Regions from separate parts of the Homo sapiens genome. Here regions 2 and 3 are each linked to region 1. Evidence: fine-mapped expression QTL. A gene starts in region 1. Each other region holds a variant in brackets. All regions are shown on one strand. Distances are between the middles of the regions. Region 1 holds the start of NUP88 (nucleoporin 88). Region 2 overlaps SMTNL2 (smoothelin like 2). Region 3 overlaps RABEP1 (rabaptin, RAB GTPase binding effector protein 1).

Evidence for each region. PIP is the estimated chance that this variant, and not a neighbour inherited with it, causes the effect.
Region 2: its variant is the best candidate, but not a certain one, in a credible set for the expression of NUP88 in CD4 T cells (BLUEPRINT, PIP 0.82).
Region 3: its variant is the best candidate, but not a certain one, in a credible set for the expression of NUP88 in cerebral cortex (GTEx, PIP 0.68).

The regions. Positions count from the first base shown.
Region 1 is chr17:5,415,792-5,425,580 of GRCh38, forward strand. NUP88 (nucleoporin 88) reads right to left here and starts at 3,871. Exons shown (of 17, transcript NM_002532.6): 1 at 3,563-3,871; 2 at 722-891. The coding sequence starts at 3,859. It overlaps RPAIN (RPA interacting protein), which reads left to right and starts at 4,391. Exons shown (of 7, transcript NM_001033002.4): 1 at 4,391-4,500; 2 at 5,505-5,675; 3 at 6,978-7,038. The coding sequence starts at 4,420. RefSeq lists enhancers at 3,233-3,872, 3,508-4,045, 4,046-4,583, 4,313-4,432, 4,443-4,662.
Region 2 is chr17:4,588,915-4,598,703 of GRCh38, forward strand. It overlaps SMTNL2 (smoothelin like 2), which reads left to right. Exons shown (of 8, transcript NM_001114974.2): 2 at 3,447-3,534; 3 at 4,015-4,257; 4 at 4,908-4,983; 5 at 6,231-6,413; 6 at 7,946-8,063; 7 at 8,258-8,409. Among named protein-coding and RNA genes, the nearest start is that of SMTNL2, 9.3 kb to the left of the region's middle. RefSeq lists enhancers at 3,962-4,533, 9,764-9,789. The variant G/A (reference allele first, on the strand shown) is at 5,257.
Region 3 is chr17:5,383,617-5,393,405 of GRCh38, forward strand. RABEP1 (rabaptin, RAB GTPase binding effector protein 1) reads left to right here. Exons shown (of 18, transcript NM_004703.6): 18 at 1-2,724. NUP88 (nucleoporin 88) reads right to left here. Exons shown (of 17, transcript NM_002532.6): 10 at 7,945-8,046; 11 at 5,186-5,344; 12 at 4,163-4,288; 13 at 3,989-4,054; 14 at 3,770-3,850; 15 at 3,368-3,494; 16 at 3,092-3,210; 17 at 1,217-2,653. The coding sequence ends at 2,590. Among named protein-coding and RNA genes, the nearest start is that of NUP88, 31 kb to the right of the region's middle. The variant CAT/C (reference allele first, on the strand shown) is at 2,929.

The DNA of each region.
Region 1 (9,789 bases):
CTGTACTCTTTTCAGTAGATCTTTCAGATTCACTTTTCTGGATTTGTTGAAAAAGAAATTATATAAAAATAGGCCAGGTGCGGTGGCTCACACCTATAACCCCGGCACTTTGGGAGGCTAAGGTGGGTGGATCACTTGAGGTCAGGAGTTCAAGACCAGCTTGGTCAACATGGTGAAACCCCGTCTCTACTAAAAATACAAAAATTAGCTGGGCATGGTAGCGCTTGCCTGTAATCCCAGTTACTCGGGAGGCTGAGGCAGAAGAATCGCTTGAATCCAGGAGGCGGAGCTTGCAGTGAGCCGAGATTGTGCCACTGCACTCCAGCCTGGGTGACAGAGCAAGACTCCATCTCAAAAAAAAAAAAAAAAAAAAAAGTATATATATATATACACACATACACACACACACACACACATAAAATACTTACACTTCTGGCAAACTTCTGGCTGACAGATAACTGGTTTTACAAAATCTTACTTCTACCTAATCGAAAGAATGGCCTAGCCTCAAATGAGACAGCAACGTGGTACTTCAGGCAGAATAAAGTACAATCAATTACACATATACTATGAACATTGATAACACAGAAGCCAGTCTGCAGACCACGAGGAGTGTTTTAATGTTTTAAGAGTAGTATACTAAACATGCTTAAGAACCACTAGTCTTGAACAATTTTCTGTATATATAATAAATTATACAGATAAATAGTATACAACTTACCTACAATTCACTGTTGATTTTCCACCTTCAAATTCAGAATTCTTCCCCCATCTTTTAGGTAATTCTAATACCATAAGTCCTTTTATTCCTATAAGTGCTACATGATGTTGTGTTGGGCTTAACAAGACTTGATAGATTTCAAACAGGGGTGGATTTATGCAAAGCAATCTCTGAAAATTAGAGCAAACCAGTCAACATAGTTAATTTTAATTTAAATATAGGTGGCAGTTACTTGAAATCACAGTAATACTTAGTTTACTACAATTATAGGATAATAAAACTCTGGATAAGTACTCACACTTGTACCATTAACTCACAAATTTTTTTTTTTTTTTTTGAGACAGAGTCTTGCTGTCACCCAGGCTGGAGTGCAGTGGCAGCCCACTGCAGACTTTACTATGGGGGTTCAAGTGTCCTCCCCACCTCAGCTTCCAGAGGAGCTGGGACTACAGGTGTGCACCATCACTCCCAGCTAATTAAAAAGGTTTTTTTTGTAGAGATGGGGGTTTCGTCATGTTGCCCAGGCTGGTCTGAACACCTGTTCCCGTGCTCACAAGATCCACCTGCCTCCACCTTGGCCTCCTAAAGTGCTGATTATAGGCTACAGCTACCACACCCAGCTTACTCATGCTTGCTTTTAACATCCAAAGTTACAACTCATGATAAGCTGCTTTCTTCCCCATCTCTAAGGTTTTGAGATTTTGGAGGAGTGAAGGTTATTGAGATAGTCACCAATATTTACTGAAAGCTTATAAATTCTGGGCACTCCAGCATTTCTGTATGCTGGACATACAAAAATAAGTAAATAGCCAGGCGTGGTGGCACATGCCTGTAGTCCCAGCTACTTCCAGGCGCTGAGGTGGGAGGATCACTCGACCCCTGACAGTAGAGGCTCCAATGAGCCGTGATCACACCACTGCACTCCAGCCTGGGCAACAGAGAAAGACCCCATTTCAAAAATAAAAAATAAAATACGTTTTTAAAAAATGACAAGGGCAGACCCAGCCCCTGCCTTGGAGCTTACAGTCTAGAAAAGAAGACAGAGGCAGAGTGCCATGGCTCACGGCTGAAATGCCAGCACTTTGGGAGGCCAAGACGGGTGGATCACCTGAGGCCAGGAGTTCCAGATCAGCCTGGTTAACATGGTGAAACCCCGTCTCCACTAAAAATACAAAAAGTAGCCGGGTACGGTGGAGTGGGCCTGTAATCCCAACTACTCAAGAGGCTGAGGCAGGAGAATCGCTTGAATCCATGAGGTGGAGGTTGCAGTTAGCTGAGATTGCACCACTGCACTCCAGCCTGGGCAACAGAGCGAGATCCTGCCTCAAAACAAAACAAAACAAAAACAGCCGGGCGCAGTGGCTCACGCCTGTAATCCCAACACTTTGGGAGGCCAAAGCCAGCAGATCACGAGGTCAGGAGTTCAAGACCAGCCTGGCCAACATGGCGAAACCCCGTCTCTACTAAAAACACAAAAATTAGTCGGGCGTGGTGGCAGATACCTGTAATCCCAGCTACTCGCGGGGGGGGCTGAGGCAGAAGAATCGCTTGAAACTGGAAGGTGGAGGTTGCGGTGAGCCGAGATGGCGCCATTGCACTCCAGCCTGGGCAACAAGAGCGAAACTCCATCTCAAAAAAAAAAAAAAGACACAAAATAATTATAAATAATTAAGTTATGATTATGTCAAATGCTACACAGCAGTATAGAATGTTATTAGAATACTGCGTGCTGCACATTTGGTAATTATTATTATTTTTTGAGACACAGTCTTGCTCTGTTGCCCAGGCTGTAGTGCAGGGGCGTGATCTCAGCTCACTGCAACCTCCTCCTCCCAGGTTCAAGCGATTCTCCTGCCTCAGGCACCTGAGTAGCTGGGATTACAAGGGCGCGCCACTACACCTGGCTAATTTTTGTATTTTTAGTAGAGACGGGGTTTCACCATGTTGGCCAGGCTGGTCTCGAATTCCTGACTTCAGGTGATCCACCTGCCTCTGCCTCCCAGTGTTGGGACTGCAGGCGTGAGCCACCGCGCCCGGCCTTCATAATTCTTTTTAACTGAAATTGGGTAAATAAGTAGACTGTAGACTCCTGCCCTATTTTCAAAACTGCAGAAGCATTGCTAGCGTCTTATTAAAATTAAATCACTTCTCGGTAACAAGAATTGGACCGGGCACACAACAGATGTCATACCTTAGAATGAGTACCAAGCTCTTTTTCATCTTTAAGAGAATCTGTGTATTACAAATAAACATTTCCATAAACCAATATTTGACCACGGCAAGTGTGTAATACTTTCTGGATCACACCCATTTTCACATGCTGTCGGCTAATCAAAAACAAAAATCCCCATTTTGGGTATGGCTTTATTTTCTAAAGCGGGCGTTACGGGGGTAAGAATTAACAGAGACTTCCTCCTCCATGTCAAGCATGAAGCGTGGTGCTTTGAAACCTGCAACCTGACTTGCTGTGCACAACGCAAGAGAAAGTTACGATCTAACCTATTATAAGCGTCACATCAGGAAACAGGTTTCTCTCGACGAAACTAAAAATAGCAACTCCGCCCACTCGTTCTCAACCCCTTTAGCCCGCTTTGTTTTTCTCCAGAGCACTCATCCGTCACTAGTATTTTTATTGAATATTCAATGACCCTTTCCTTCCTCCCAGGCCTCCAGGCCGTAAGCATCGAGAGAGCCTGAGTCCCCGCGACCGCGTATGGCAGCGTCGGAGTCAATCCGCTGGAACGCCTGCCACAAGATGAAAAACAGCCAAGAGGAGCAAGGAACAAAAAAGACTGGTTCCGATCCCGGTGAGGGTCACTTCCAAGATCGGCCTGGCATTACCTGGTACTGGGACAGGGCGGGCTCTTCGCCGCCGCCGCTGGGGCCCCGAAGGCGAACGACTAAGAAGGAGCTGTCTTCTCCGTCCCACAGGAAAAGCTCTCCGCCGAGGCCAAAGACCACGTTTCTCGTCAGCAACTGCGGCGGCGGCGACGAAGGCAACGACGAAGAAGCTGGTTTCTCAGCTTCGGTTGGACTCTGGTTTTTCAGTCCCTCCCGGAGCCGCAAGAACACGACGTGGTTAGGAAGCCAGGTCTGCCACAGCTCGCCGTCGCCCACCGGTCCCTCGGCGGCCGCCATCTTGGCCCAACTGCTCCCCTCACTCCAGTTGCTCAGCCCGCCGCTGAGCACAGCCAATCCGCGGCCGTCCACTCACTGTTTCGGCCAATCACCGAGCAGACGGCCCGGAAGCTCGAGAGGCTCGTGCCAGGTCGGGGGGCGAAGGCGAGGCCAGCCCACCAAGCAGGGGCGTCACCAAGGGAAAGCCAATCACCATTATTTCTGAAGCCCAAGGGGGCGGGACGAGAAGTCAACATAATGGTGGTGCTGCTGGAAATCTAGCACCTGGGGAGAGCCTGAGACTTGTGTATCTAATTGCCTATTGGACACCTCCATCTGGGTAAACCCAGGCATCCAGAACTTTCCCTCAAGACTTACCTCCCTCAGTGCAGGTCGGGCTGGCCTCACGCATTTCGCTTGGATGCCTAAATCTGTCTCCACGTGGGGCCGGTCGATAAAACAACACTTCCCAGAATACGCTGCGATCCATTCGCGGTCTGCACCCGGAAAGTACACCTCCCAGGGGTCTGTGCGCGCCTCCAGGGAACGGGTCTTGTGGCTTTGTCTCCCGCGAAGAGGAGATGGCGGAGTCGTTGAGGTCTCCGCGCCGCTCCCTGTACAAACTGGTGGGCTCGCCGCCTTGGAAAGAGGCTTTCCGGCAGGTGGGTATGGGGTTTGTGCAGTGGTCTACCCTAGATCGTCCCGGTGACCGCCGTCTTCCCTGCCTTCGCCTTAGCCCTGCTCCGTGGAGCAGGTGCCGCAGCGCGCCTGGTCTGGTCAAACCCAGGCCTGCTGACTGTAGAGTGTGGGATTAGCCCGGGTCGGTCAAGTCCTAGAAAGCCTTGTTTTTGGATTCGATTTTGTTTTGAATTTAAATTGTGGTCAGGACATCACCGTTTGCACCTCTGCAATAACACTACCTACTGTTGCTGCGGAGGTGGCCACCGAGAGAGGCACTTTGTCTACGTTCGTCTTGTGAGATAGAGATGATTTCTATTCTAGAGAGTAGTAAAATGAGGCTTAGAAGAGGGCTCCACCTCAGTTCTGGCCTCTTCTGAACACAGTGTGGTTATTAGTAAGTAATGTCCAAGAAAGTAACCCGACGCAAGAAAGATAGCAGATACAGCAGAGTTTCTCAGCCTTGACAATGGACATTTTGAGGGAGATATTTATATGTTGTGGAGGGTTGTTTAAGCCACGTCTCGGGCCTCCACCCACTAGATGCTAATAGTCCTATAACTAGAATTGTGACAACCAGAAATGTCTCCAAGCATTGCCAAATGTTCCTTGGGGGACAAAACCTCCCTGAGTTCAGAAACGCTGCTGTGCAGGAAGGCCGTTACCCAGCCATATCTAGAGTAGCAAGAATTTGGAAGGAATATAAATGTTCTGTAATAGGACATTGGATGCTGAGATATTATGCACACAACCATTAAGGAAACTGGCAAGCTAGAATAAAAAATATGGTTCTTTGTAAATACGTGTACAAAGCATTGTAATTTTATGTATCTCTACAGAGGAATATGCAAAAGTAACACTAGTTAGTATTATCATTGAAATTTTGTGTCTATAAACTTTCTTTAATGTTTTCTCAACTAATGTAAGAGTGTTTTTTAAAAATAGAAATGCTTTTTTTTTCCCCCCCAATCTTGCTCTTTTTTCCCAGAGATGCCTGGAGAGAATGAGAAACAGCCGGGACAGGCTCCTAAACAGGTACCGCCAGGCTGGAAGCAGTGGGCCAGGGAATTCTCAGAACAGCTTTCTAGTTCAAGAGGTGATGGAAGAAGAGTGGAATGCTTTGCAGTCAGTGGAGAATTGTCCAGAAGACTTGGCTCAGGTCAGGCTGGGCTATGTGTTTTCAGGGAGGGGGACTGCACCACCAAGAACGGCTCGTGTCCTCTTTTATTTGTTTACTTGAGTCCTCTAAACCCACCATTCCCCTAACCCCATTTAGAATTCAACAGCCTTTAACCCAGGCTTTTCTACACTTAATGTTAGACTTGTCTAGATGAAATGGTCTGAAATACCAGACCGTAGACCTGCTCATCACTGCAACATCATCATTTATGAAACTAAAAAGAAAGAAATTTCATTTCTTGCCTCCACCCTTGGAAATTATGATTCAGTAGGCATAGGCTAGGAATCTCTTTCTCTCCCTCTCTCTCGCTCTTTTTTTTTTTCTGTCTTGCTCTGTCGCCCAGGCTGGAGTGCAGTGGCAAGATCTCGGCTCACTGCAACCTCCACCTCCTGGGTTCAAACGATTCTCCTGTCTCAGCCTCCCAAGTAGCTGGGATTACAGATGTGTGCCACCATGCCCGGCTAATTTTGTTTCTGTTTTAGCAGGGATGGGGTTTCACCATGTTGGCCAGGCTGGTCTTGAACGCCTGACCTCTAGTGATCTGCCCACGTCAGGAATCTCTTTCTAAAAAGGTCTCCAGAAACTTTCCGATTCTAATCTCAGCCAACGTTGGCAGCCATGTGTGGAAGGGAAAACCATTTATAGTGTATCAGGAAGAACACTGGATTCGAAGTCAGGAGTTCCAGAATTCAAATCCTGGTTTGGCTATTGACTGTTAACTTCAGTTTGCCTCTTTGAGGTTTAGTTTTCACATTTATAAAATGAGAAGATAATGTTTTCAGCATTGTAAGGACTGTGTAAGAAAATGTGGGCAACTGTTTGAAACCATCAACACCCTGTGTAATAATGATGCATTATTCAGTGGCTTTTGTGTGTCCTGCAGTACACCAATGTTTGCCTTATATCACCACAACTAGTACTCACAGTAACCCTCTTAGATAGATTTTATTCCCACTTTACAGAGGCCAAAACTGAGATTTGCAGAGATTAGGAACTTTTCATGTGGTTACGTAGCCTTGGAAGAATATGTACCTAACTGCTACCCTATATCGTCTCTCCAAAATTGGGTACCATTATTTTGTCACTGGATAGTTGGATCATTTGTTGATGGCTTGTCAGCATGACAGCATTACCCCACTGTCAGCATATTCTGCAGGAGGACTGGACTGATTTTGTCCAATAAATCTGGGTTCTTCAAGCCAGCCTCCAAGTATGAATCACTGTGGGGCTTGGTTGGTGATTAATACTTCAAACTTCTGATGCCGCTCCTTTCTCTTCCAGCTGGAGGAGCTGATAGACATGGCTGTGCTGGAGGAAATTCAACAGGAGCTGATCAACCAAGGTAACCCCTAGTGGTAGTCCTTCCTTACCTGTATTTAGCTACTGGAATACTGTGACCTTTCCTCCAATCAGGATTAGTTTATAAGTCCCCTTTGTCTACCTCCATCAGTCAAGTGTCCAAAAGACTCCTTTTGTACTCTGACATCTTGGCTGTCTAGCTTCTCAATAATAAGGGTCTCCAGGGTGCTAGACCTTGTGCTAAGAACTTCTCATTTAATGATGCTGTTTTCTCCATGTGACTGCCCTGTAAGATAGTAGTATTAGAACAGAAGGTGGTTGGTGTTCTCGTGCAGGTCATACAGCTAGTAAGTGGAGGAGATGGGAAGCAAAATCAGTTGTATGAATCCAGTTCCCATGTTTCTTCTACCATCCTGCCTCTCTATTAATGGGTTAATAGTTCACTGAGGGTGGTGGCTTATGCCTGTAATCCCAGCATTTTGAGAGGCTGAGGCAGGAGTATTGCTTGAGGCCAGTTCAAGACCAGCATGGGCAACATAACAAGATCCTGTCTCTACAGAAGTAAAAAAAAAAAAAAAAAAATTATCTGGGTGTGGTAGCAAATACTTGTAGCCTCCCTCAGCCAGAAGGCTTAGGCAGGAGGATCACTTGAACCCAAGAGTTTAAGGTTACAGTGAGCTATAATTTTACCACCTCACTCCAGCCTGGCTGACAGAGGGAGACCCTGTCACTTTAAAAAATAAAATAAAAAAAAGTAAACCTGCCATTTTACAGGATACAGTGATAGTGCATGGTCTGATCCCTTGCCCTATTCATTTTAAGTGCCACATTCTCTATTAACTCCCCAGGGCCTGTGAGCATCCACTCCTTGAGGGAGGTGTCCATAGCATGGTGTAGAGAGCATAATTTTGTACCTTATATAGTTAAGTCATTTATTCCATGTAGCCCTGATTTGATTAGGCCTTGTTTGGTTTTTGTTTTTGTTTTTTTTGAGACAGGGTCTCTGCCCAGGCTGGAATGCAGTGGCGTGATCACGGCCCACTGCAGCCTTGACCTCCTGGGCTTAAGCGATCTTCCCACCTCAGCCTTCTGAATAGCTGGGATCATAGGCGTGTGCCACCACCCCTGGCTAATTTTTTTTTATTAATTTTTTTTTTTTAGCTAAAGATGATAAAAACAAGACAAAAAATTATTTTATTTATGTATTTTTTTTTTTTTTGAGATAGGTTCTTGCTCTGTTGCCCAGGCTGGAGTGCAGTGATGTAATCATGGCTCACTGTGGCTTCATCCTCCTAGGCTCAACCAATCCTCTCATCTCAGCCTCCCGAGTAGCTGGGACCGCAAGTGTGCACCACCATACCGAGCTAATTTTTTTATTTTTTTGTAGAGACAGGGTCTCACTGTGTTGCCCAGGCTGGTCTCGAACTCCTCCCTGGTCTCAAGTGATCCCCCCACCTCAGCCTCCTAAAGTTTTGAGATTACAGGCATGAGCCAAAATGCCTAGCCTAATTTTTTAAATTTTTTTGTAGAGGCAGGGTCTCACTATGTTGCCTAGGCTGGTCTCAAACAGCTGGACTCAAACCATCCTCCTACTTCAGCCTCCCAAAGTGTTGGGATTACAGACATGAGGCATGGCCCCCAGCCTTAGGCTTCATTTTTATGACCTATAAAATGGAGAGAATACCCTATAAATTTGTTGTAAGGCTTAAATAACGTGTGTAGAAGACTTAGTGCATTGTCTGGCATATAGAGAGCTTTCAATAATCAACAGCTATTATTATGGTGAGGCAAGAGCACAAGCTCTTGAGTCATACCTCTAACATTCACTTGGCTTTACTACTTTAATTTGTGTGGCACCGACCAAAGCACTTAATTTCCCCGTGCCTCAGTTTCTTCACCTTTGAAATAAGGATAATAATAGTGAAGAAGTTAATATATGTAAGGAATTTAAAATAGCATTTGACACATAAGTGCCATGCAAGTGTTAGTTGTTAATGACTGTTGCTGTCGACTCTGGTTAGACTGTAAATTCCTTAAGTTATCATCTTTTTTTATTGATTTTCCCTTCCCCCACCTACAAAACCTATCTTAGTGGTGAAACATAAGCCTGACCAAATGTTTTATTTTGGGGCATACTTAACTAATAAGTCTGAAGTGACAAGGATTTACTGTGTTGTGCTGTACTCAGCCATAAGGAACATTCTAAAGCAGAAGTTGGCAGACTTTTTGTGAAGAGCCAGATAGCAAATACTTTAGACTTCACAGACCATGTGGTCTCTGGCACAATTTCTCAGCTCTGCAGTTCTAGTGGAAAAGCAGTTATAGACACTACATAAACAAATAAGCGTGACTGTAGTTTTTTGACCCCTTCCCTAATGTCTAGACTGTGAGCTCAACAATGACAGTCTTTTTCATCTTTGTGCCCCTGTGACTAGCAGATACTAGGTACTGTTGTATGTTTGCTGAATGAATGAGCACACAGATTCTGAACAACACAGATTCCAAGTATGTGGAATCAGCAGGGTCGTCCTGGCATCAGAAATCAGTTCTCTCTTTTTTTTTTTTTTGACACAGAGTCTCGCTCTGTCACTCAGGCTGGAGTGCAGTGGCGCAATCTCGGATCACTGCAACCTCCGCCTCCTGGGTTCAAGTGATTCTTCTGCCTCAGCCTCCCGAGTAGCTGGGATTATAGACGTGCGCCACATGCCTGGCTAATTTTTTGTGTTTGTTAGTAGAGATGGGTTTCACCATGTTGGCCAGGCTGGTTTCGAACTCCTGACCTCGAGTGATCTGC
Region 2 (9,789 bases), 830 kb before region 1:
CTTTCCCCATCTGTGTGATGATGGGTTGGAGGATGGTCTCAGAATAGCCCCTTGCGCCTTGACCTAAGGCACGGGCAGACCCCTTTCCCCAGGTGACGAATGCTTCTAGTCGTGGGGCAGGGGAGCTTGGGAGTCTGGGCTCAGCCCTACACCCCAGCCTGCATTAGCCCAGCCCCTTCCCCTCCTCCCTTTGCCGGAGAACCCTTAGCAGTGATCTAACCAGGATAGAACTTACTCCCAGTCTGGTGTAGCGCCTGGTCCCCTGGGGCATCATGGGGGTTGTTGAGGGGCTGCAACGTGCAGGGACAGGCATCTGCGGAGGGCCTCCCACCCACCTATAGAGAAACATATTTCCTGGGAAAATGGTTTCACCCTCAGCCTTTCCCCCCAGAGCCCCGCCTGGACCTGTGGAACCTGTCAGACGAGAGCAGGGTGGGTGAGGGGGCACGGAGACCCCAGAGCCTGGTGACTGTGGGGGCCGGGGTTCCAGCTGGACTGGCTGGTTCTCCTCCCCCTGCCGACATGGTCTACACGGCCGCAGCGTGGCTCTAGGGGCACCCGTTCTGCTCTGCGTGCTGGGAGACGCCCTGTGCTTTTCTTGCGTTTCTGAGAGTGGGCCTGGCCTCTCCTCCTCCCACTCTTGAATCAAGAGCTCAGGGGTCGCCTCCTCTCCAAGGCTGGCTCTTCCCAGGCTCTGGGTCCTGTCTGCTGTGAGCTCCCCAGTGGTCCCGCTCTGCAGATGCTCCCCTCACCTTTCTCACCCTATGAATGTGGTCTTGCCTCTTCCTTCTGGAAAAACCCCTCAGACCCTTTCCCCTGGCTTCGCTCAGGGCTAAAGTTACTGCGCTGTCTTCATTTCTCTGGGACCCCTCTGCTAGGCCATCTCCTGTCCCCCAACCCCCTGTCCCCCGCCCCACGCTTCTGATCACCCATGACCTCTTCTTTTGCTGAACCCAATGGATGCCTGGTTGGATTTCCTCTTCACCTTTTCCTCAACCCCAGGCTGCCTTTGGACGCACCTGGCTTTTTTTTTTTTTTTTTTTTTTTTTTTTTTTTTTTTTTTTTTTTTTGAGACAGAGTCTCGCTCTGTTGCTCAGGCTGGAGTGCAGTGGTGCAATCTTGGCTCACTGCAACCTCCATCTCCTGGGTTTAAGCGATTCTCATGCCTCAGCCTCCTGAGTAGCTGGGATTACAGGCACCCACCACCATGCCTGGCTAATTGTTGTATTTTTAGTAGAGATGGGGTTTCACCACGTTGGCCAGGCTGGTCTTGAACTCGTGACCTCAAGTGATCCACCCGCCTCGGCCTCCCAAAGTGCTAGGATGACAGGCGTGAGCCACCGCGCCTGGCCCCGTGCCTGGCTTCTTGACTCCCTTCCTTCCTGGCCTTGGCTTTCTCACCATTCTTCAGGGGCTCCTCCTACGTCTCTGGCTGCTCCTCATTCTCCGCAGACTGCTCTGTTGCTTCCTGAAATGTGGGGGCCTCATCCCAGGGCCCCTAAGCTGCTCTTCCTCTGCTGGGCTTCCAGGAGCCCAGTGCATGCCCCTGACTCCTGTTTTTCCATGTTCGTCCTTCTTTTCTCTTAAACTCCAGACTCAAAAATCCAGCTACCTCCTCAGCTCCCTGATGCTCCAGGTGCCCCAGGCCCTCAACATGTCCCAACTGAAACCCTCATTTAGCCCCTAAACCTGCCCTGACCCACCAAGTCTGGGCTTGGGAGAGGCTTGGCACCCTTCCTCTTCCATGTCCACCCAGTCTCCCAGCCAGATCCCTTTTCCCCAAAGCTCCGAGTCCTTCTTGCCCGTGGCCCTCCCAGTGCCCCATCTCCCCTCCCCAGGTTCCTGCCCAGGACTAGTGAAGTGTCTTGCCATCTGGTCTCCACTCTCTGGCATCTTCTGAAGGGTGTGCCTGAAACACAGAGCCGAGGACCTTGGGCTCCTTCTTGTCTAAGGCGTCAAGTACCCAGGGCCAGCAGCTTGGGCGGCAGGGCAGGCAGCTTGGGCGGCAGGGCACTTCTCCATCTGCCTGCGTCCTGGACGGGCATGATCAGGATACCTGTGCCTTGATGTCTCTCTGCAAAAGCAGACACTAATCACTCTGCTGGGAGTGCCCTCCCTTGCTCCTCCACCGGGCTCACTCTGGATGTGGCTCAGGCACCCCTGCCTCTGAGAAGCCCTCCTTGCCCCACTGGGTCAGATGAAGCCTGTGTGAGGCATCCTTATCCTGACACGGCCCCCTCTGTTCACCAGCCTGGCTCCCCTCCCAGACTGATTCCCCAATGGCAGGGTGGCACCTCCCGCACTGGTTGCAAGAGGAGCTGAGCCATCTGGGGCCAGGGATGCAACATCATTTGCCTGGGAACCTTGTAGACCAGGGGGCATCTGGGAGAGGCACAGCCGACCTCTCAAGCCGCTCGTCCTGGGCTCGTGGTGGAGCCCCCACCAGCCCCACAGACACTCTCAGCCGTTCACACGCCCTGGCTGTGAGGAGGGCAGGACCAAGGTTGAGGACTTCTCCCCTGGCCACACGTGCCAGCTGTTTTTTGCTGTATAACTTTGGGCAGGGCACATGCCCTCTGGGAGTCCTCGGGCCCCATCTCTGAAATGGCTCTGGCAGCACCTACCGGGGAGGACAGTTGCTATAAGTGGTGTTTAGAAGGTGTTGCTATAAGGATAGCACCGGAAAAAGGGCTGGATGTTTGGTAGATGCCGAGTGGCACTTGCCTAGCCTGCTCCCGTTTCTCAAACAGGGAAACAGACCCAGAGGGGAACTGATGTGGCCCAGGTCACATGGGTGGGTGGCAGCACAGCCTGGATCCCAGGCTCCCCACTGGCTCTTGGCCTTGGCTGTCTTGTCTGCCCCCACCTGCCCCACCCACTACTACTGCCCAGCTGGGATGGATGAGTCGCACGGAGCTGATCAGGCGCTTGCACTCTGCATAGCCGGGTAAATCTTGTGTCCCCGCCTCCCATGCAAAGATCTCATCGTGATCAGGGCTCCGTAGCTCATCGTTGGCCCAGAAGGACCTGGTGCCACTGGTTCCTGCTGCCCCTGCACGGGTAGCCATGCCGACCTGGCCCAGCTGAGAGGGGCAGGGGGCGAGGCACTCCTGACCCCATCATCTGGTCCAGCCTGGGGGAAAAGGTGAGGGGGCCTAATGTCATTGGAACCCTCCATCTTGACTTCTGTCCTCAGCTTTTTGGGACTCTGGGAGGAGCCCAGTGGAGGTGTTTGCCTCCCAGGATCGCAGGGGCTCAGCAGTTGGAGTGGGGCCATCCCAGCTTTTGCTGTGTGACTTGGCCCGTCACTTTCTTCCTGGGGGCTGTTTTCTCTCAACATGATTGGTGTTTTGCCAGAACGGGAGGGGATTTGGGGGTGGGCAGCTTTTGGGGGTGGGCAGCTGGCCCTAGCTGATGGGGTCTCGGTGACATTTGTGTCTCTGTAGAGTTTGGATCACGATGAGGCCAGTGAGTCGGAGATGAGAAAGACCTCAAACTCCTGCATCATGGAAAATGGGCACCAGCCGGGGGCAGGTAGGGCTGACGGCAGAGGAGGGGTGGCTGGGTAGGTTTGGGGGTTAAGTAAGGCCTTGGTCAGGTATCTGTGCCAGGCTGGCCCTTGGCCTGGCATCGGGGGGACTCTATCCTGAACCCCAGCAGGGAGAGAGGCTGCCAGGAGAGCAGCGTCATTCAGTAGAACTTGTGAAACACAGAGGGAAGTTGGGAGATCTCAGGAGGTAGTGAGCTCTCCTGTTTCTAGAGGAAAGCAAATAGAGGCTGAGGAGCCGACTAGTATTTATTAAGCTGGCCATGAGGGGAAGTTGGGAAAAATCAATTCTGGTTGGAGCAGTAAGATATCCCTGGTAGGGGAGGTCAGAGAGGCTGGAGCAGTCAGGGAGGCCTTCCTAGAGGAGGTGGGAGGAGGGCCCAGGGAGGCTAGAGCCCTCCTGGGAGGTCCCAGGCCCCTGTGGCTGCCACAGCTGACCACCCACCCATGCTGGTCACATGTTCCAGGTCCAGGCGATGGACCCCCTGAGATTGCCCAAAACTTCTCAGCACCAGATCCCCCCAGGCCTCGTCCTGTGAGCCTCTCCTTGCGGCTGCCCCACCAGCCAGTCACGGCCATCACCCGAGTCTCTGACAGGTTCTCTGGGGAGACCTCAGCTGCGGCTCTATCACCCATGTCTGCTGCCACCCTGGGGGGCCTCAACCCAAGCCCCAGCGAGGTCATCACGCCCTGGACTCCCAGTCCTAGCGGTATGAGCTGGAGAGCGTGGCCTTGGGGCAGACCTCCCCTTGGGATGGGAGAGGGAAGGCCGGGGCTGGGGAGAGGGAGTCGGTGGGTGACATGGAAAACGAGGGGCTAAGCCCAGCCCTGCCTCTGCCTGCCATGTCAGCCCCTTCCCTTAGCCCATCCTCCCGGGCTACTGCCCAGAGATGCTGTGAAATAGCGTCATCCCCTGGTGGGGGCGACCGTGGCTTTTATTACAGTTGGAAGGTGGCCTCTTGCCCTGCACGTTGGGCACTGTCCCCTCCCTCAAGGCCCCAGGCCTGACTTGGGCCTGTGGCCAGTCCTCCGTGGTATGTCCTGGGGGAAGCCGTGTGGGCCTCTATAGGGAGGGTTTGGGAGCAGTGTTCACTGGATACATGGCACGGGCCCTGGGCTCTGTGCTCTCAAGAGCAGGGCGGGGACAGTTGAAAAGACCTCTTTGATGTTGTTGCTGTGTGTGCCCATCCTCCTTTCTCCTCCACTGTCTGCTGAGGCAGGGCCAGCTTAGCCCAGAAGGTTAGCTCATCCATGCAGCGATGCCGGGTAAATGAGGCAGGGCTGGGTCAGAGGAAGGGAGGCTATGGCGGGCCCTCCCTGGGGCCAGGGTTTGTTACTTCTCTCCCTCTCTCTTCCACAGAGAAGAATTCCTCTTTCACGTGGTCTGTGCCAAGCTCTGGCTATGGGGCAGTGACAGCAAGCAAACACAGCAATAGGTGAGTCAGGGCCTGTGTTCCTGTGGGGTCGCTGCGCCCCAGGTGTCTTCTCTGCTTTGGACGCAGGCCGCCCAGGGTTGGCCCTGGGGTTGGTGCCTCCTGGTAAGGCTCGGGGCTGGATCTCGGGAGCACTGGGCGGCAGGATGGGGGGAAGGTCTGAGCAGGGGGAGTGAGGCAGTGGGCCTCGGTGGAGAGTTTCATTTGGAGAAATATGGTCACAGCCTGGTTTCTTTGTGGGACCTTCAAGTCAGTCAAAAGATTGGAGGAGTGGCC[G/A]GGCGCGGTGGCTCACACCTGTAATCCCAGCACTTTGGGAGGTTGAGGTGGGTGGATCACCTGAGGTCAAGAGTTCGAGACCAGACTGGCCAACATGGCAAAACGCTGTCTCCACTAAAAATACAAAAATTAGCTGGGCATGGTGGTGGGTGCCTGTAATCCCAGCTACTTGGGACGCTGAGGCAGGAGAATCGCTTGAACTCGGGAAGCGGAGTTTGCAGTGAGCCAAGATGGTGCCACTGCTCTCCAGCCTAGGTAACAGAGTGAGACTCTATCTACAAAAAATAAATAAATAAATAAATAAATAAATGAATAAAAAACAAAAAAATATTGGAGGAGGCCTCTCAGCCGGCAGGAGGGAGAGGACAGGAGCTTTGTCTTCTTCCATCCCAGCCAGCTGGGGTCCCTCAGAGCCCGGAACTTCCTGCCCACGGGCTGCGAGCAGGGGCAGGTGAGCAGGTCCTTCCCTGTGGCACAGGCCTCCCCCCAGCCAGCCAGCGGGACTGTGATTGGGGATGGGGGTAGGGTAGCAGGCTTGGCTTTTTTTTTTTTCTTTAATAATAAAAGGAGAATTGTGACTTTCTGGCAAACCGTTCTGGGGAAAACAAAGGGGGTCTTATCGCATGGTGGTGGAGGCAGGAGGCCTGGTCCCTCCGGGGCTGGTTCTGAGCACACCTCCTGCCTGAGGAGGGGGTCCCTCTGTCCTCCCCAGGCATTGACACCTGCAAAGGGGTGGTTATGTCCAGATCGGGCCCAGCGTCTCCTGAGTTGAGCCTATTGGCCAGTCCCTCCAGCCAGCACAATTCAGAAAACCTGTCAAACCAGCTAGGGACCGGAGCAAGGGGGCCTCTTCTCTGAGCGCCCATCACGGTGCAGGCTGCCTTGTCCACACTCAGTGCAATGGAGACCTTGGGGCCTGGTGAGCTAGTGATGGCTGCTGGGCCCAGGTCCCAACTCGGCGATTCTTTCCTCAGCCCACCGCTGGTGACACCACCCCAGTCGCCCGTGTCCCCGCAGCCGCCAGCCATAACTCAGGTCCATCGGCAGGGGGAGCGTCGCAGGGAGCTGGTGAGGTCGCAGACGCTGCCCCGCACCTCGGAGGCGCAGGCCCGGAAAGCATTGTTTGAGAAGTGGGAGCAGGAAACGGCGGCCGGCAAGTACGGATGCCCACTCACAGACAGGCCCGGCCCCACGGTGTGCCCAGACCCAGACGGGGCTTGGGTGGGTGCAGCAGGGCAAGGTTCAGCCCTGTCCTGTTCCCCAGGGCGCTGTTGCCCAGGACAAGATCTCTTGGGCAAGGCACAAAGTTAGGGCTGGGCCACAGGGCAGCTTGGGGGGACAGAGGACCCCAGTTGTTGGGGGAGATGGCTGTGAGGCAGGGAGCCAGGAAGGCTTGGTGAGAGCCCCTCTCTCCTCCTCCATTCCCGAGGCCCCCTGTCCTGTCTCTGGTGCCGCCAGGCTGCCCTCACACCCACATTCCCCAGGGGTTGTGGCTCCTCTGGTTTCTGGGCATGACCGGGGACTGGATGGGGACTGGGATTCCTGGCCAGAGCTGGGAGCCCCAGCATGGGGTTGGTCTTGCCCAAGGACCGAAGGTGATGCCACGGGGCCGAGTGGCCTCCAGCCTGCTACTAGGTCTCGAGCGACGGCTCCTCAGGCTCCAGCCCACCTTTGCATATTCAGCCAGTCCTCGTGTCAGTGCATGGTATTGATGCCTGCTGTGTGCAGAGTGTGGCCCAAGCGTGGTATTGATGTCTGCTGTGTGCAGGGTGTGGCCCAAGCGTGGTATTGATGTCTGCTGTGTGCAGGGTGTGGCCCACGCGTGGTATTGATGCCTGCTGTGTGCAGGGTGTGGCCCAAGCGTGGTATTGATGTCTGCTGTGTGCAGGGTGTGGCCCACGCGTGGTATTGATGCCTGCTGTGTGCAGGGTGTGGCCCAAGCGTGGTATTGATGTCTGCTGTGTGCAGGGTGTGGCCCAAGCGTGGTATTGATGCCTGCTGTGTGCAGGGTGTGGCCCAAGCGTGGTATTGATGCCTGCTGTGTGCAGAGTGTGGCCCAAGCGTGGTATTGATGCCTGCTGTGTGCAGGGTGTGGCCCAGGCCTTGTGGGATAATGAAGACGACAGCCAGTCCCTGCTCGACTCTAGTGAGGGGGACCGACCCCGGACATCTCCCCACTGGCCCCAAACAACCTGGCCTAGGCCATTAGGGACTGTCCTTGGGGCCCAGAAGAGGAACTCATCCCTCCTGGCTAGGAAAGAGCCATCAGGGAAGGAGGCACCCCATTAAGAGGGGAGCTCAGAAGGAGGAGTGGGAGGAAGGAGCTGGGAAAGGTGTTCCAAAGCAGAAGGCAGGGGCCCAGGGCCATGTGAGCCAAGGTCTTCTGTCTCAGGATTCCCAGGTGACCCCTGCTTCCTGGATGGGGAATAAACAGGGGACCTGGAGGGCTGTAGGGGTGTGGACGGTCCTGCCACATACCATCAAAGGAGGCTGTGTCGCTGGTACATGGGCTGTGCCGTGGACGTGGGCACAGCTGAGCCCACGTGTGCCACCAGCATCTCCCCTGGGTGAGCAGAGCAGGTGGGAGCACCCTCCTTGGTGGTGCCAGGACAGCCTCCCCTGCCCCAGACCCGCACTGGGAGATGGCAGCTGGAGGGGCCCCCGCAGCAGGCCTGCCGTCTCTCCGCAGGGGGAAAGGCGAGGCCCGGGCCAGGCTGAAGCGGTCGCAGAGCTTCGGCGTGGCCAGCGCCAGCAGCATCAAGCAGATCCTGCTCGAGTGGTGCCGCAGCAAGACGCTGGGCTACCAGGTGAGCCCCGGCTCCCCTCCGGCTGCTGGGACGCCCCAGCTAAAAGCTTGACCAAGCGTCGCCCCTGTCCTTGTTCTCCCGCCTGGGCAGGAGCCCGCTGAGGCTGGGGTTAAGGGGTAGGAACCACGGTAATTATGCCTTCCGAGTGGGTGCCCAGCTGCCCTCCCGCACTGACCCCACTCACCCTGTTGCAGCACGTGGACCTGCAGAACTTCTCCTCCAGCTGGAGCGACGGCATGGCCTTCTGCGCCCTGGTACACTCCTTCTTCCCCGATGCCTTTGACTACAACTCCCTGAGCCCCACGCAGAGGCAGAAGAACTTCGAGCTGGCTTTCACCATGGCCGAGTGAGTATGGTGGCTCCTGCTGGCTACCAGCCCCAGCCCAGTCCCTGAGCCCAACTTCTTCCCCAGGTGGGGCATGGGGGCGAGTGGGATGTCGGGCCGCTGTCTGCAAAGCTGAAGGACCCTGGGGCCATGTGGTCTGTGTACCTCTTGTGCAGATGGGAAGACTGAGGCCTGGAGAGGGATTTTCCCAGAGTCACACAGCACTCAGTGGTGGAGGGGGACTCCGTTCCTGGGGACCTGCCCTTTTTGCTAGGTGCCCAGCTTCTGAGGTGCACTCTGGGAGACCAGCCACAGACCAGGCATGAAGGGCAGCAGGACAGGGTCCCCCAAAGCTCTGAATCTGTCCTCTCTGGACTGATGGAGAGATGCCGTTGCTTGCATGAGCCACAGCTGCCAGTTAGCAAGGAACTGGATATGACCTGGGCCACTTAAAAGGAGATTTTTGCTTCCAATAAGATTTTCCTTCCCGAAATGGTGTTCTGGCATTTATTGTGAAATTGCCTAGCTTCTTAGGTCCCACCTCTAGGGTGAAGATTTGGGGGTGGCTCTGGGGTCAGGAGGCACCTGGAAAGCCAGTTCGGGATTTGGTTTTTGGCCGAGGGCCTCAGGAGAGTTGGCAAAGTCAGGTCTGTCTGCCAGGGCTCCAGCGGCGGACGGGGGCACAGTCAAGAACTGGGCGAGGAGAGTTTAATAAAGGGACCCTTTACAAAGGCGTGGGCAGGAATGAGGTCGTGGGTCAGGCCTCATGCAGCAGCCTCGGGATAACAGCAGTGTGGCGGATCTCAGCCCGTGGCCTGGGTGCGGAGGACTGTCTGATAAGAGCTGCGCTTTGGGCAAATGGTTGCAGTCAGCTCGCTGCGACCTGGCAGGGAGGGAGCTGTGGATAAGTGTCCCAACCTCATTCCCCTCCTGCCTCACGCCAGGGCCTCATGGTGACTGAACCCAATCTGAAGACAGAGGGCCAGGGCTGTGGTTCATCCTGGCCCCCAGGGCAGGGAGCAGGGCACAGATGAGTGGTGTTCGGGGCTGCCCAATGCTAAGCTCTCTGAAGCTCAGAGAGAAGTAAGGCCGTCCCCAAAGCCGAGTCTTCTGGAGGGCGCGTTTGTTATTCTCTCCCTGCCTTTGTGCCTTGTGTTGTCAGCCTCTGACGTCGGTCTACAACCGACCTTGTTTGTTTCTGGTCTGAGTCCTCAGTGCCCACATTTAAGAGTGGTCCTTGGCCGGGCACGGTGGCTCCCACCTGTAATCCTAGCACTTTGGGAGGCCAAGGCGGGTGGATTGCCTGAGCTCAGGAGTTCGAGACCAGCTTGGGCAACACGGCGAAACCCTGTCTCTACTAAAATACAAAAAATTAGCCAGGCATGGTGGCAGGCGCCTGGA
Region 3 (9,789 bases), 32 kb before region 1:
ATCTGTTGTCTAGAGCTCATCAGTAACAGTATTCAGTTAGCAGACAGAAGTGTAGTATGCTGTATGAATATTTTATATTAAAATATGAAGGTTTGAGAGCAGGCCATTGGCTACTGACTGTATTTTGTTTTCCTTTTACCATTTTATCTTATCTTGCTTTGGAGGACCTTAAATGCTACTGAAACTTACCTGAGAACCATAGGACTGTGGCAAACAAAACCAATTCATGAAGTGAATTAATGATGAGGATCTGAAAACTTGGCTGGGGCTATATATACTGGAAGTTGAAGGTTAAAGGAAAAGCACAAGAAACTTTGGAAGCACTTTTTCTGCATACTTAGATGATCTTCATGGGCCCACAGGGTACCAGGATAAAGCCGAACTGGTACCATCTACTCTTTTGAAGTGTTTTAGTCTAGTTATTGGATCAGTGAAAAACATTAGTATACGTTTTTAAATAGGCTAATTTTTCAACTTGGATCATTAGGCTTACGTACTACTTGTTTCAAATGTGTCAAATACAAAAATGGTAACTAGGTTGACAGATACTTTGTATTTTTCTTTTGAATTCAGACCTGGAATGTAAGTAAGTGACAATGCTTATGGAAAGCCAGTTAGTTAGAATTGGAAATCTGTCTTGTCATTTTACAAGCATTAGATTCCTTTCCTGTGTGAAGAAAGCCTCAGTGAAACAGGTCTTTGCCATAACTTTATGAAGTGCTACAGAAAGCACAAAGAATTGATTCATGTTCATCAATACCTGCTGAGAGTACTGTCCCAGGAATATCCAGTGGATGGATTCATCATCCAGGAGGTTCAAAAGTAAGATGGTTTTCAAATCATTTTTGAGACTGGTTGCATAACAGCAGGGTACCTGAAAGAGCCTTCTGGGAGTTAGTGAACTAGGTAGATTGTTTTGTTCACATAACGCCACCATCAACTTAAAGTGAATTGTCTTTGTTATAAATGAGGTCACTATGGACTTACCCTAAAGATCTTCTGTACTTCTGTCTTCCATAGGACAAATGATAAGTACTACATACCTCATCTCTTGGGTTATTATTGTAGTCTTGCATTCATGGTTATGAATTTAAAAATAAATACCAATTATGGAAATAGTACTAAAGGCTTGCCGCACATGAAACATTATTTTAATTGGTTTAAAGTCCCTTTATAAAGAGTGCTACATGGTTTAGATAAAGGAAACATATAACTATTGAGTTACAGGGGATTTTATTAATTATAAAATGCAATCAATTTAAATTACGTAGGTTTAAGACTAGTCCCTTGGATAAGCCCCAAGCGAATTTGTCTTCAGATTATTAAAATTAGTGCTGTAAATCAGGGTGGGCAATTCACAGCCTTTCTGAACTGACTGAACTAGAGCTTGCAGTGAAGTGTTCTGCTGAGACTGAGCACCTTACAGATATTTTTCTCCAGAAGATGGTGCTGGGTAATAAAATCATCACAATTAGGGAATGGTTAGTGGTCTCTACTGTGGCAAATGCCAACTGTTGGAATTCACTTTATTGTAGAAAAACCCAAACTGAGACTCTTAAGTTTTGTTTAGCAATGTGTTTCTGGTATGAAACAAACTACTGTGTCACTGTCCAGGTAGGAAACAATTCTTTCAACTGGGTTTTCAGCATAAATGGGAACTGATGTAGAAGGCAGGATTTAGCCCTTCTAGGCAAAAGAAAAGCTCAGTTGGGTTTCACGAGTGTTCCTGTGCTTATATTCAGTCTGTGCCTACATGTTCTCATGCATGTCTAACCTGATTTACCTCTTACCTGTAACCTACCTTATCATGTGGCTTTTAATTGACAGTCACTCAGCCATTTCTAAGCAGATATAGTAGTACCTTTCAGAACTCACATTGGCAAGTGTAAAAAGATGACTTAAGGTGAAGTGAGGACAAAATCACATTCTGCATACTAACCTATTTTTTTCTCCCTTTAAGGTGCTAAACTTGCACCTCATGTCCACTCAGTAACAAGTATTGGGACGTAGAGCACAGCCTCACTCAGCTCTGAAAGGTAATACAGCTTGTGAGGAAGTGAGCCAGCAGTGGCCTTTGCAATTGTGGATCTTGAGCTCTGCTCTCAGCAGATTTCAGGTGTAACCATTTGTTAACTGTACTGAAGGTGTGTCCTCAAGAAGAAAGTGTTCAAATTAAAAAAGCTGCTGCCAAGTACACTGTGTGGTCTTCTCCTTTGAATCCTAGGGTTCTATCCCTCTTCAGAGTCATGTTTCTGGTGCTGCTACTTTAAAACACAGCTCACAAGAATAACTAACTTGCTCAAATATGGAGAAAACTCAATAGGGTTCAGGGAGGTTCTGGCAGTGTGCAGTGTGAAATAATCCTGAGTCCTTGCTGAACACAACTGTAGGCTTGAGTTATAAAGCACATTCCAAATTTTAAATAAAAGCATTTACTCAATTATTATAAAACAACATATTTAAAAAGATGAACCACACCAAAGGTCATCAAAACACCTTTTTATAAATTAGATAATTCTACCTGTTTTACAATATGGGTTTAAGCCTTCAATGGTGTTCAGTTCAGGTGTGAGTCAGCTCCTGGTGGTGTCAGAAGTTTACATGATTGCGGATATCATTGATTTGCTTCACCATTTCCCTTATATGTTCACCCCTGTAAAATTGTAAAGTCACTCACTTTTGGAATTATAATAAACCATTTATATGGATTCTTAAGAATTTAAACTGGTAATGTTGAAACATCTAAGAACTGCTTTGCTAAAATTAACAGCTGAAGGTTTCAGGTGGATAGCAATAGTGTTCACTATTCATTTAAGGTGGCAAACGGTGCAAGTACTGGAAATATTTTTGAACATAATTACTGTAAAATACCTTTGGCCACACAACAAAATCATGTTACTAGAAGGTCATCCCTTTCAATCCTCCCAC[CAT/C]AGTCATTTCTTAAGTCCCTATGTATCATGTGGCTCTCATCCCAGTAATTACTTGACATGCAAATACCAAGATTCAGGTTTCTATTAAGACAGGTTGATTCTGGCATACTGTAAAGGAAAAACTATCTCACGATAATAGCTGATTGGAAGTATTTACTTACTCCTCTTTCAGGATGGACTGAATGCACTTTCGCTGGTAGGCACTGAGAATAATGGTGGGTTTTGGAAGACTCAACACCTTCTCCATCTTTTGCTGTTGATAATCCTTTTTCATAGTAACCTTAAGTATTAAAATAATAGATATTTTGGCAGTGGTTTGCCACACATTTTCACAGTATCTATTTGAATCTGTTCTTTTTACATTTTTGTAAAATTTTCTGTAGAATAAGTGCTTTAAGAAAAATTACCAAATTTAGCTAGTTTGGATCTATTCCTACCTGTTTGATGGCATTGCCCAAATGTCGAAGTTGATCAGGTATCAGCTGTAATTCTTTCTTCATGTCTCGCTCACTATCAGAGAGAACTGGGAGCTCAGAGTGAAAACTGTGAAGTAGTTTTTTCATCCTTTAGAAAAGGCAAGCAAACATCTCAATTTAAGGTCTCTACTAATTAGGAGAAACATAATCACAAGCTCATAATTCATGAATCTGGTGTTTCTGAAGTAGGCCCCATAGGAAGGGTTAGGGGAGAGCCTCATGTTTTCCCCAACATATACTTCAGAGGAGAGGCAGGGGGATCAGTTCAGTTCCGTAGGTATGTAAGCACCTGCCAATGCCCATTTTCTTAAATATCGTTGTTAGTACCTGACTAGGTAACTAAATGTTATACAGCCCACTGACCTGTTCATGATATCCTCTTGTTTTTCTTTAGCTTCCTCATATTTGTCAGCTAAACGCTCAGCCATTTCCCGCAGACTTTTCCTAATGATGTAAGACACAAGAGACTCTTGAGGTCCACCCCTTGATGCTGAAACCACCTAATGTGGCTCAGCATCTTAGGGTGAGAATATGGTTCCAGTCTTACTGACCTATTGTATTCTTCTTATTTTTGACACTTACCTCTCTTCTCGACAATAACTGAGATCTTCTAGTTGTTTCTTTTTTTGGTCACATAATAATTTGACCCTTTAAAAACAAAAAGAAATAGAGTTTATTCAGAAGCCAGGTCTAGGCTACCATACAGCATCAGCTACCAGCCAGGGATCGATGGTTTGTGAACACAGGACATCATACCTCCGCTGAATCTCCTCCTTTGCCAAGTCCTGTTTGAGAATGTACTGCTCTCTGAACACCTGGGTGGCTCTGCTGAGGAGCTGAAGGCATTCTTCAGGAGGAGGGGCTATGTCCTTTTCAGAAGCTCTTAAAAACAAAGTTTCTACCTTTATTTTCCTTAGCTGAGTAAAACAACTGAAAATAAATAGACTCAAGTCACAGGTGCTTTTTAAACTTTTTATATTTTTAATTTATTTATTTGAGATGCAGTCTCGCTCTGTCACCCAGGCTGGAGTGCATTGGTGCTATCTCGGCTCACTGCAACCTCCACCTCCCAGGTTCGAGCAATTCTTCTGCCTCAGCCTCTCGAGTAGCTGGGATTACAGGTGCCCACCACCACGCCTGGCTAATTATTGCATTTTTAGTAGAGACAGGGTTTCACCATGTTGGCCGGGCTGGTTTTGAACTCCTGACCTTAGGTGATCCGCCTGCCTGGGCCTCCCAAAGTGCTGGGATTACAGCTGTAAGCCACCGTGCCCAGCCTAACTTGAGACGAGTCTCACTGTCGCCCAGGCTGGAGTGCAGTGGTGGGATCTCAGCTCACTGCAACCTCTGCCTCCCAGGTTCAAGCGGTTCTCCTGCCTCAGCCTCCCAAGTAGCTGGGATTACAGGCATCTGCCACCACACCCAGCTAATTTTTTTTTGTATTTTTAGTAGAGATGGGGTTTTGCTGTGTTAGCCAGGATGGTCTCGATCTCCTGACCTCGCGATTCACCCGTCTTGGTCTCCCAAAGTGCTGAGATTACAGGTGTGAGCCACCACGCCCGGCCTAGCCTAACTTCTTTTTAAACACTTCCTGTTTATCATTCTCAGGTGCCACTTCCCTCCTGCTCCCCATTCACTAGCTGATCAAATATATCCAGTTTCTTCCAAATTTATCACAGTAAAAAGTATATGAAACAGATGAGGACAGAAAGGATGCACAGTAATTCTGAAGACAGAAGAGAACCCATTCATAAAACCGCTATGCCCAAGGTTGCATACTTCAAAAATGCTGGATTGGCAACACTACGTTGCAAAATGCTTCTAATATGCTTTTCAAAGGAATCTGGGGTTTCAGCCAGAACACGGAGGGGAGACTCTGCCACTTCAACATCTTCTCGAGTACAAAGCAGGGGAGGAGACGCTGGATGGACTGTACTTCTGCAAAATAAGTAAGTAAATTGAATTCTACCATGGAGTGATTTACTGTATTACAGGAAAGCAGAAACCACATTAATCCAGAACTTTCAGAATATAAAATAAAGTGTAACTTTTGTAAAAGTGCAAGAATGCATGTTTTCCACCTTGAAAAGGTCACTTTGGGAAGCTACACCCTTATTATTCCAATGCCCCTGATTTGTGAAAGCATTTCTGACTGCCATTTCCAGTTCTTTTCTAAAAGATCAAGGCAGCACAAACACCTAGCATGGATTCTTGGCAAAGGACTTGAAAGCCAGTTTATAAGCCGGAGCCACAAACATAAATTACTTATTTGTTAGGTTTAGAGTTGATCAAAACCAATATTAAGCCAAGAAACTGCTGTATATACCATATTGGTTCTATATAATTTCATTTCTAAAAACTATTCAGTCAAGTGCAAATACTCAAACTTCAAAAAGAGCTTAAAAGATCTCACAGACTTCGGCAGCATGGCAAGTGACTTACTCTGAAGGCAACAATTCTAACGTGAATGTTTGGTTGGGCGTGGTGGCTCACGCCTGTAATCCCAGCACTTTGGGAGGCCGAGGCAGGTGGATCACTTGAGGTCAGGCGTTCAAGACAAGCCTGGCCAACGTGGTAAAACTGTCTCTACTAAAAATATAAAAATCAGCTGGGTGTGGTGGCACACATCTGTAATCCCAGCTACTTGGGTGGCTGAGGCATGAGAATCGCCTGAACCCAGGAGGCGGAGGTTGCAGTGAGCTGAGATCACACCACTGCACTCCAGCCTGGGTGACAGAGCAAGACTCTGTCTCAAAAAAAAAAAAAAAAAAAAGTGAAAGTTCATGAAATAGCATAACTTTATAGACAACTTGTATTTCAGGGAGTTGGCAGAAATATGATCTGAAAGTATCCAGATAATTGGCCTGGCACGGTGGCTCATGCCTGTAATCCCAGCACTTTGGGAGGCCGAGGTGGGTGGATCACCTGAGGTCAGGAGTTCAGGACCAGCCTGGCCAACATGGCAAAACCTCATCTCTACTAAAAATATAAAAATTAGCTGGGCATGTGGTGTGCGCCTGTAATCCCAGCTACTAGGGAGGCTGAGGCAGGAGAATCACTTGAACCCGGGAGGCAGAGGTTGCAGTGAGCTGAGATCGTGCCACTGCCCTCCAGCTTGGGCAACACAGCAAACTCCGTCTCAAAAAAAAAAAAAAAAAATATCCAGACAATTAATGTTTATTTTTCCCCTTTGGGATTCATATTTATTCTGAAGTAAGCTAGTGTGACTAGGTTTTATTTTACTAAATGTACTGTGGGTGTTTAAAAAGTATGCTGAGGTAACTTACAGGTAATTTTTTCTCCAGTGATTTTATTATTTTTGTTTGGTCTTGCTAGCTTTTAGTGCCTTCAGTGTAAATAACACAAAATTTATATTTATTTTTACATCCAGATAGTACAACTTAATCAAGCTTCAAAGACTATGGAAGATCCTCTAAGGACAGTAAACTACTGCCAGTATTAGGAATTTATGTCAGCATCCAGAGGTGCAAGCTTTGAACGGACAAGGGGTGGGGGTGTTGTCTAGTGTTTGAAGCTCCAGTGACTTTTGTTTTTGGTACTCATATTCCTACATTTATGTAACTCAGAATGATCTTCCAGGGCTGTTGGAAAAGGAACATAGTGATTACAGCTTAATTATCTGAGTTCCTTAAAGGAGCAAAGACTAAGAGTTCAGCTTTTTTGTTTTTTTTTTTAAAAGACACAGGGTCTTGCTCTGTTACCCAGGCTGTAGTGCAGTGGCATGATCATGGTTCACTGCAGCCTAAAACTCCTGGGCTTAAGCAATCCTCTCACCTGAGCAGCTAGGACTACAGATGTGTACCACCATGCCTGGCTAATTTTTTTGTTTTTTGTAGAGATGGGGGTCTCACTGTTTTGCCCAGGCTGATCTCGAACTCTGGGCCTCCCAAAGCATTGGGATTACAGGCATGAACCACCACTGCACCCAGCCTGAGTTCAGCTTTATTCCAGTTTACATAGTCTACAGTGTCCCTCAGGCTGGCAGAGATGGAGAAATTAAAGAGTATGAGTATGGACTTCTGAGTCAATGAGACCTGCATCTGTATCCCAGCTCTATTTGTTACCTGTGACTTCAGCATTTACTAACCTCTCGATCCCCGTTTCCACTTTTATAAAATGGAAATGACAGTGCCTTCCTTACAGGGCTGCCCTGATGATTCCAGGAGGCAGTGCGGGTACGTGGCTTACTTCTGAGCTTGGCGTATGGTCACAGCTTGATAATTATTACTCATATCGATAATGGAATTTGGTATTCAATTTTAGTATTTTTTCTCCACACTCTGAAGAAAAGCTCCTGACTCTCAGCTAGGTGCAGGGGATGCCAGAAACTATACCTACAATGAAACCTTATAGAGATGATGGCAGGAACAGAAATATCCATCCTTCCAACCCTCAAGTCAGAAGCCAAAGTATAAACCACACATGTATAGCTTCAAGTTGGTTACTGAGTGCATTTTCCCAACTTAGATATTGCAGAATTAACAAGAGCTGTGTGGAGAATATAAAATGGGACGTACAATAACGGCCATATGAGGCATTCATAGGTACTGGTGATGCAGATCATCGTGGGTCCCAGAATGTCAGGTACAATCCAAAATCCTCGAATTGGAGCTGGCTGCCTGGAAAAACACAGTCATAGTTAAATTACAAAGCAGCAAATGCAATGGAACCAAGAGCAAAGACATGACAGGTCCGCGGCCTTCTCAGGCCTGGGCTGAAGTTGCTTGGGACATCCTATCAGTACCATAACCTCAAAAGTGGTGGCTTGGAAACCTTTAATGCAGCTCCACACTAAAGTCTAGAGCCCATGTGACTAAGTCACTCAGGAATCCCTAACTGTAGCGTGCTGCTGACTGTAATCTCAAAAGTTACACGTTACACTGAAGATCTCTCCAACTTGCACATAAGCCCCAGCTATCTTTGTTTGCCTAGCCCAGTGCTAACAAATTAAGTGCTTAGAAACTGTTGAATGAACAGAACTACCGAGTCTCTCTCAATGAGGCCCAATGTCAATGTCACAGGAAATCACTTGGCACGCACAGCGTGTATCTCTCTCAGTCTTCCTTCCCACTTCAGTGAAGACACTGGAAACTGAGACCTCAGATGGGAACTGTCATTCTGCCAACATGCTCTCCTAGCGGCTCCCATGCCCATCCCACCTGCATGCCTACAACACACATCTGCCCCCGAATGTGGATGCCGCCTCCTCTCACACCTTCTGAAAATTGTACCATCAACTGTGTCGTTTCAAAATCTCCCTATTATCTACTTCCCCTCAGCTTGCAAACTCATGTCTCTTCCATTTAAAATACTCTCATTTCAATATAATGTCCAGTTCCCCTTAACCTATTCTTTCTCGCCATCCCTTTAGAACCAGCAGTCTTTAAACAGCAGTTGAAAACACTAGTTCCCCTTCCATAGCTCCCATTTACCTTTTTGGACAAGACATGGAGACGATATCTGGAAGGTTGTAAACTTTAACTTTTTATTATCAGTGTGAAATCTACACACTACTGGGCTATACACTATGTAACCAGTATCCAGGTCAAGAATCAGGACACTGCAGGGGGCCTCAGGGTTCCCATGCGACCTTCCCTGGTCATAGCCTTTCACTCCCCAGAGAAGTAGCCGCTACTCTGACATTCATAATATCATGTCTTTGCTTTGCTTTATAGTTTTCCTATCTATGTATTCACTCCTAGGCAAGACTGTTTAATTTTACCTGTTTCTGAAATTGATATAAATGGGATTTTGGGGTTTTTTTGAGATAGGGTCTCACTCTGTTGCCGAGGCTGGAGTGCAATAGTGCGATCACGACTCACTGCAGCCTTGACCTCGTGGGCTCAAACAATCCTTCCTTCTCAGCCTCCTGAGTAGCTGGGACCACAGGTACATGCTACCACAGTGGCTAATTTTTTTTTTTGTTTGAGACGGAGTCTCACTCTGTTGCCCAGGCTGGAGTGCAGTGACATGATCTTGGCTCACTGCAGCCTCCACCTCCCAGGGTCATACGATTCTCCTGCCTCAGCCTCCTGAGTAGCTGGGATTACAGGTGCCCGCCACTACACCCAGCTAATTTTTTTTTTGTATTTTAGTAGAGACGGGGTTTCACCACGTTGGCCAGGCTGGTCTCGAACTCCTGACCTAGTAATTCGCCTGCCTCAGCCTCCCAAAGTGCTGGGATTACAGGCGTGAGCCACCACGCCTGGCCTCACCTAGCTAATTTTTAAATTTTTTTGTAAAGGGTCTCACTATGTTGCCCAGGCTGGTCTCAAACTCCTGGCCTCAAGTGATCCTCCTGCCTCACCTGACAAAGTGCTGGGATTATAGGTGTAAGCCACCATGCCCAGCCTACATGGGAT